Linked DNA regions of Homo sapiens. The protein of the gene in region 1 purifies or fractionates together with the protein of each later gene. This does not show direct contact. Each region holds a gene or a part of one and is shown in the gene's direction. Other genes may lie near its edges.

Region 1 (3,500 bases):
AAAATCAAGCCTATACATACCATTTCAACTATAAATATTCATTATGTATTTCTAAAAAATAAAACCTCTTTAAAAAATACTACCATATCATTATTAAATGCCCCAAAATGAACATTGGCTCCTTATTTTCGTCAAATGGCCTATCAGTGTTCAATTTTTTTTTTCTTTTTACTATTTATTTGAAGCAGGATCCAAAGGAGGGCCATCCATTTGCGATTGACATATCTCTTTTTTTTTTTTTTTTTTTTTTTTTTTGAGACCGAATCTCACTCTGTTGCCCAGGCTGGAGTGCAGTGGCACGATCTTGGCTCACTGCAACCTCTGTCTCCTGGGTTCAAGTGATTCTTATGCCTCAGCCTCCTGAGTAGCTGGGATCACAGGCGCCCGCCACCATGCCTGGCTAATTTTTATATTTTTTGTAGAGACAGGGTTTCACCATGTTGGCCAGGCTGGTCTCAAACTCCTGGCCTCAAGTGATCCGCCTGCCTCAGCCCTCCTCGGCTTTCCAAAGTCCTGGGATTTTGAGCCACCAAGCCCAGCCACAATTGACATACCTTTTAAGTTCCTCTTTAAAGTAGGGCTTGCATCCCTCTTTTTTTTCTTGCTGTTTTATTCTTGAGGAAGAAACCAGGTTGGTGTCTGTCAAGTTGGTCCTGTAGGGTTTCTCAGTCTCGATTTTGCATTCCTGTGGTGTCATTCATATTAATGTGTGTGGTTGCAGATAGTTTATGTTTCTGTAATGAGACGTTTACCCTCATAAATGATTTGGTTATCCACCAGACCTTACGTTAACGTCTCTTCAGTCTTTTTGGTCATCTGAAGCTCATTCTATAGTACGTGATGCAGAAGGTGCCCACAGGTGCATTATTCCCATATTCCACAAAAGTACATGATTATGAAGATTAGTTTGATTGTTTATAAAATCCATGACTTACGTTTTCTTTCTTTGCATACCTTAGTTACTCTGTGGACTTCTGGAAAAAAGCATTGCTGTCACAAAATCTGATCACAATCTGATTTTCTTTTTCCTACTTGCGATTTGGTCTTTTTAAAAAATGTGGGTGATCAAATGATTTTTTCCCTTTTCTTTAGAGGGTCAGTGTTCCTAGATACACAGGATATCCTTTCAATATGTAGTTTCAAGCTGTCTTTCATTTTAGGAGAGTTCTTTTGAGTTGTTTTTGGTATTTGTTCTGTATTACTGCTTTGGTTTTCTTCTTCAGGACCTGCCATTGTAGATGTACTTTTGCTGATCTTCTTTATCACTTTTTTTTTTAGATCACCTTATCTCTTCTTTTAAAATAAGTTTCTTTTTAAGTAACAGTTTTATTGAGCAAAACCCTTATACCATGAAATTCACCCTTTTAAAGTATACAATTCAGTGGTTCTTAGTATATTCACAGAGGCACGCCTAATTGCCAGTATCTAATTTTAGAACATTTTCAAATTTTAGAAAGAAAAATTATGCCCATTAGCAGTCACTCCACATTCTCCCCTACCCCCACAGCTCCTGGAAACCACTAATCAATCTACTTTCTATCTCTTTGGGTCTGCCTGTTATGGACAGTTCATGGACATTTCATGGAATCTTGCAATTGTGTACTGGCTTCTCTCACTTTGCATAATGTTTTCAAGGGTCATCCTTCATATTGATACTTCTTGTATCAATGTATTGTTCCTTTTATAGCTGAATGATACCCCATTGTATAGATATACCACTTTTTGTTTATACATTCATCAGATGAACACTTCAGTTGCTTCTGCTTTTTGGCTATTATGAATCATGCTGCTGTGAATGTGCAAGTTTTTATTTCTCTCGGGTATATACCTAGGAGTGGGATTGTTGGGTCACATGGTAACTAATTAGCATTTTGAGGAGCTGCCAAACTGTTTTTCAAGTGGCAGCACCATTTTACATTCCCCAGCAAGGTATGAAGGTTCTGATTTCCTGTATCTTCACCAACATTTGTTACTTTTTTATACTAGCTATCCTAGTGGTATGAAGTGATACCTCATTGTGGTTTTGATTTGCATTCCTCTCACGACTAATGATGTTGAACATCTTTTCATGTACTTATAGGCTATTGTAAGCACTGTGGACACAGTGATGTATCAGATACATGGTTTGCAAATATTTTCTCCCATTGTGTAGGTTCTCTTTTCACTTTCTTGATATCATTTGAAGCCCAAAAGTATTTAATTTTGATGTAGCTCAGTTTACCTACTTTTTCTTTTATCATTGTGCTTTTGGCTTCTCAACTGAGAAATCATTGCTGAGTTCAAGGTCACAAAGATTTACTTGTATGCTTCCTTTAAGAGTTTCATAGTTTTGGCCAGGCACGGTGGCTCACGCTTGTAATCCTAGCACTTTGGGAGGCCGAGGTGGGTGGATCACCTGAGGTCAGGAGTTCAAGATCAGCCTGGCCAACATGGTGAAACCCCTTCTCTACTAAAAATACAAAAATTAGCTGAGCATGGTGGTGCACGCCTGTAATCCCAGCTACTTGGGAGGCTGAGGCAGGAGAATCGCATGAACCCAGTGAGCTGAGATCATGCCACTGCACTCCAACCTGGGCGACAGAGCGAGACGCGGTCTCAGAAAAAAAAAAAAAAAAAGTTTCATAGTTTTACTTTCCATTTAGATCTGTGATACATTTAATTTTTCTATATGATGTAAGGAAGGAGGGATCCAACTTTATTTTTTTTATTTTTTTATTTTTTGAGACAAGGTCTCACTCCCATCGCCTAGGCTGGAGTGCAGTGGTGTGATTTCAGCTCACTGCAGCCTCGACATCCTGGGCTCAAACCATCCACCCATCTCAGCCCCCAGGGTGGCTGAGACTATAGGTGCATGCCACCATGCTCAGCTAATTTTTGTATTTTTTGTGGAGATGGGGTTTTGCCATGTTGCCAAGCTGGTCTCAAACTCCTGAGCTCATGTGATCCACCCACCTTGGCTTCTCAAAGTGCTGGGATTACAGGCATGAGCCATGGCACCTGGGCCAGCTTTATTCTTTTGCATATGTATATCTAGTTTTCCCAGCACCATTTCTTGAAAAGACTATTCCTTTCCTATCTAATTTTCTTGACACCACAATAACTTTTATGGAATCTGACTGAGATCCTTTTCTTTGCTATTGTCTACTAGTGAAATGAATTTTTGTGTATTTTTAGGAGGGAGGGAATGGGCAAGGATAACTTTCCTAGTTCATTTTCTAGGTTAAAGCTGTCTCTTCTCTGGCTTTTGCAAAGTGAGAATACATGTACCTTGTGCTTTCTGAGATGTGCCTTTTCTGCTTCTCTCCACCACTTCTGTCTGAACTTACTGCTTTGTCTCTTTTGTCTGGCATTCTACAACTTGGATTCTACTCCCAGCAGTTTCTCTTCTGTGAGACTTTGTCTTGGAAAGGAACTTTGATTTGTTAATTTTGAGAGTTTATAGCACCCAGACTGTACCATGAGAACTTACTTATACTGCACTGTAGTCTGCTTGCATTTAC
Region 2 (3,500 bases), on another chromosome or scaffold:
TTATGAGGGTTTGGGGTGTTAAGGGAGGGATATGTTAAATAAGACCTTAGATCTTAATATTGATCTGGTGTTGCATTGTAGAGATGTTGCCCTAACTTGGTTGAGAATGAAGAAGGCCCTTGAAGTGGTAGTCTTGGGTATTTTGGGAAACACTGCCCTCCAACCCCCAATGGGAGTGACCATCAGAGGAGCTGCTGGTTGGCCCAGAGAGAAACCGGCAAACACCATCCTCCTCCTCTTAAATTTACCCAGGTCTTAAGGCTCTTTGGTGGTGGGGCGTGAATGACACAGCCTTGAGTCAGGGACTAGCTGAGGAGCCCCCGGCCCAAGGAAGGTCACTTGCGAGTTGGTGTGGTGCTGCGGCCTTGTGGCTCTGGGGCCTGATGGGCCTGTTTTACTATTTTTTGTTTACCTGCTGTGTGACCTTGTGTAAGTCATTGACCGTCAGCCAGAGTTTCTGACCATACCAACATCAAAAGATGGTTGGGGGCAGGGGTGAACATGATGATCATCAAAGTGCCCAACTCAGGGCTTGGCACGTTAGAGTGCTGGTAGATGTTGATTGATTGATTGTTTTAGTGAGCATATAGGTGCTCCATAAATCTAAGTTTCATTCCATCTCCTAACATCTTCAGCCATGTGTATATGAGACATGGAGTGGGACTGGGGGGAAAAAAGTGAGAAACTTGAGATTTTCTTCCTTAAGGAATGATCTTCCCTAGAATTGGTGGGGAGGAAAGGAATTTAAAAGATGTATTTTCCCAATTTAAAAAAGCCTTTATTCATACTTAAATAACAGCATACATGATAATTTGATGAGTAAATCAAACTATATAATTTTAAAATTTGCATATTTTAAAGTTTTATCAGTTACTTACAGACTGTTTGCAAAATAGAGGGAGGATCACTCATAATCTTACATAGCACTGTCAGCAGTCTGCTGTCCTGTGCCCAGTCGAATGGATTGACACTAGATATGCATGTCTCATGTCATTCGTATATTTCCGTTTCCCCAAGTCTTCACCTGTCCCCATCTACCCAGATCATTTGGGAAATGTAAATGTGCAGTCCTAAGCGCTGCCCGCAGGGTCGCGATGTCTGCCAGGTACTGCTGGCTGGCTCTAGACACCAGCAGCAGTGATAAGAAACAAAGCAGAGGAGACAGTTAAATGGTAGAGAAGAGAAGGGGGAGCAGAGGTGGTAGGCCGGGAACAGGGGAATAAGTATGGTTCTCCCCGCACGTGCCCATGTGCGCACACACCGAAGGCCATTTAAAGGGAAGCGGTTAGGTATGAGGTTGTGTTTGCTGAATTAGTGGTTGGTTTTTGCTGTCTATCTAGATAGCAGCTGCTGCCAGCTCCTCGTCTAAGAGGCTTTCTTTGCTGCCACCTTCACTGGTTTGTGGAAAGCTTCTGGCCCCATAGACTGTTGAGAATTCCAGGAGAAAATTCCTAATTAGCGGATCCCGTTTGAATGCATTCTTACAGGACTGCATATGTACAAAAGAAGAATTGGCTTCATTGGCCCCACATAGATGTCACGTGAGAGTGAAAAAACCTGGGGTATAAATATCAAAGGAACCCCTATCTGCTGGTTTGCTGAGGAGCCCACTTCCAGCAGAACCTTCTCTGTCCTTCTGAGTCTGTAGAGGGCGCTTATGTCACTGGAATCCTAGTCTGGCATGGGGCAGGCAGAGGAGCAGGAGCCCCCAGTGGGTTCAGATCTTCTGAAAACTTGAGGTTAGCGGATCTGCCCTTTGAGGGTCTCAGGCTGGATTTGGGCCTGGAGTCCGTGTTTCTCCAAGGGTGTTGCTTGGGTGAGCGCTGGAGTGCACTTGCATGTGTATGTACTCTCACGCCCTCGTGGACTGGGAAGGCGCCGTAGCACAGGTTAGATTCCCTGCTTTCAGGGAGCCTGGTTCATTTTTGTCCTCGTTGTATATAGAGCTTGAACTTGGTGTTCCCCAGGTCCAGTACCACTGCCGTTGCTGCCTGCCTTCTGTTTCACTGCTGTTTTCTGAGTGCCTCGTGTGCAGCCTGTCCTTCAGCCCTCCCTGAAGCTCTGCTGACCAGCTGTGTTCCCAGCTCCTTTTCACGTGCTCTTTAGCCAGCCTTACCCTGCATTGTACTTACTTGGGTCAGGTGCCCCTGCTAGACTCTTAAGCCCCTAGGGGGCAGGGATCTGGGGGCGTCATCCACCTCTGCAGCCCTAGCTTCTGGTATAGCATGTGATAGGACATAGCATGTGATGGGGCTTCTCGGATAAGAAAGGGATGAGTCCATCTGTTCACCAGTAACTATTAGGGATGGGGATTTGTGTTTAAAGGTGGGGCAAAGGAGAGAGTGATTCAAAGTAATGGATTACTTCAGTGAACCTATAGGTTCCTTAGTAGGAGAGAGAGATTATTCTGGGCAAGAGGTCCCGCCCTTGGTCTGCCAGCATTTCCCCAGAACTACCGGCTTGTGTTTTGGTGTTAGTTTCTTCCTCCTACAGTGCTGACTTTCTCAAGTAACTTTCAGCTATTGTTGGACATTCTTGATCAGGGGATAGTTAGTAAACTGCAGTCAGTGGGCCAGATCTGGCCCACTGCCTGTTGCTAATAGAGTTTTATTGGAACACAGTTATACCCATTTTTTAATGTATTTGTGTGTGGCTGTTTTGTGCTAGCGTGACAGAGTTGAGTAGGTGTGGTAGAGACTTTTGGCCACAAAGCCTAAAATATTTACTACCTGGCCCTTTTAAAGATAAGTTACTAACCCTCTAGTAACTGTCAGCCCATCGTTTTGTGGTGATTGTCTGATGTGGTCAAGAGGCGGTGCATGCATAAAAAGTTTTAAAGGCCTGGGTCGGGAACTTTGGGTAAATAATCAAGGTACTTTGAGATCTTTTCCTCATCTGTGAGATGGGCATTAAAAACAACACCTGTCTCGCGGGAGGTCTTGCGCACTGCTAGTGGACGTACATTGCGGATGTCAGAGCAGGCCCTAGTTTGGCCGGGGACATTATTGCCGCCGTTCTGTTTCTCAGGAGGAGGAAGCCAAGAATCTGGTGAGCGAAGCCATCGCAGCTGGCATCTTCAACGACCTGGGCTCCGGAAGCAACATTGACCTCTGCGTCATCAGCAAGAACAAGCTGGATTTTCTCCGCCCATACACAGTGCCCAACAAGAAGGGGACCAGGTGAGTGAAGGAGACGAAGTTCTTCCTGGGTCCCCTGGCGTCGTGGCCACCCTTGGTATCTCCATGGCATCTGGATGGAGTTTTCCTGGTTCTTTCCACATTAAGTACATCCAGTGTTCCCAAATCAACCTCCCACACAGACCTTCGGCTTGTTACTTGCTTTATGACAGTGGGCTGCTGTCAGGTGTAGGAAAGTGATTTAATTTGATGGGAGAGGTGGAGGGTGGCCCAGGAAAGAGCCCTAGGCTGGGAGGTGGGGCCGGAGAGGTTTGGATCATCTGCTGTCCTTTCTCAAGTGTCTTAAAGAATCCCCTGATTTCT

Evidence for each region. The genes of interacting proteins can lie anywhere in the genome.
Region 2: the proteins of DYNC1I2 (region 1) and PSMB7 fractionate together in Homo sapiens (co-fractionation; one large-scale study listed by BioGRID). This does not show direct contact.

What each region holds. Positions count from the first base shown.
Region 1 is NC_000002.12:171,739,469-171,742,968, forward strand, and holds part of DYNC1I2 (cytoplasmic dynein 1 intermediate chain 2), read left to right. Parts: intron 1-3,500. UniProt on the Homo sapiens protein: Acts as one of several non-catalytic accessory components of the cytoplasmic dynein 1 complex that are thought to be involved in linking dynein to cargos and to adapter proteins that regulate dynein function.
Region 2 is NC_000009.12:124,356,443-124,359,942, reverse strand, and holds part of PSMB7 (proteasome subunit beta type-7 precursor), read left to right. Parts: intron 1-756; exon of another isoform or gene 757-3,027; coding exon 3,028-3,179; exon of another isoform or gene 3,180-3,500. UniProt on the Homo sapiens protein: Component of the 20S core proteasome complex involved in the proteolytic degradation of most intracellular proteins. This complex plays numerous essential roles within the cell by associating with different regulatory particles.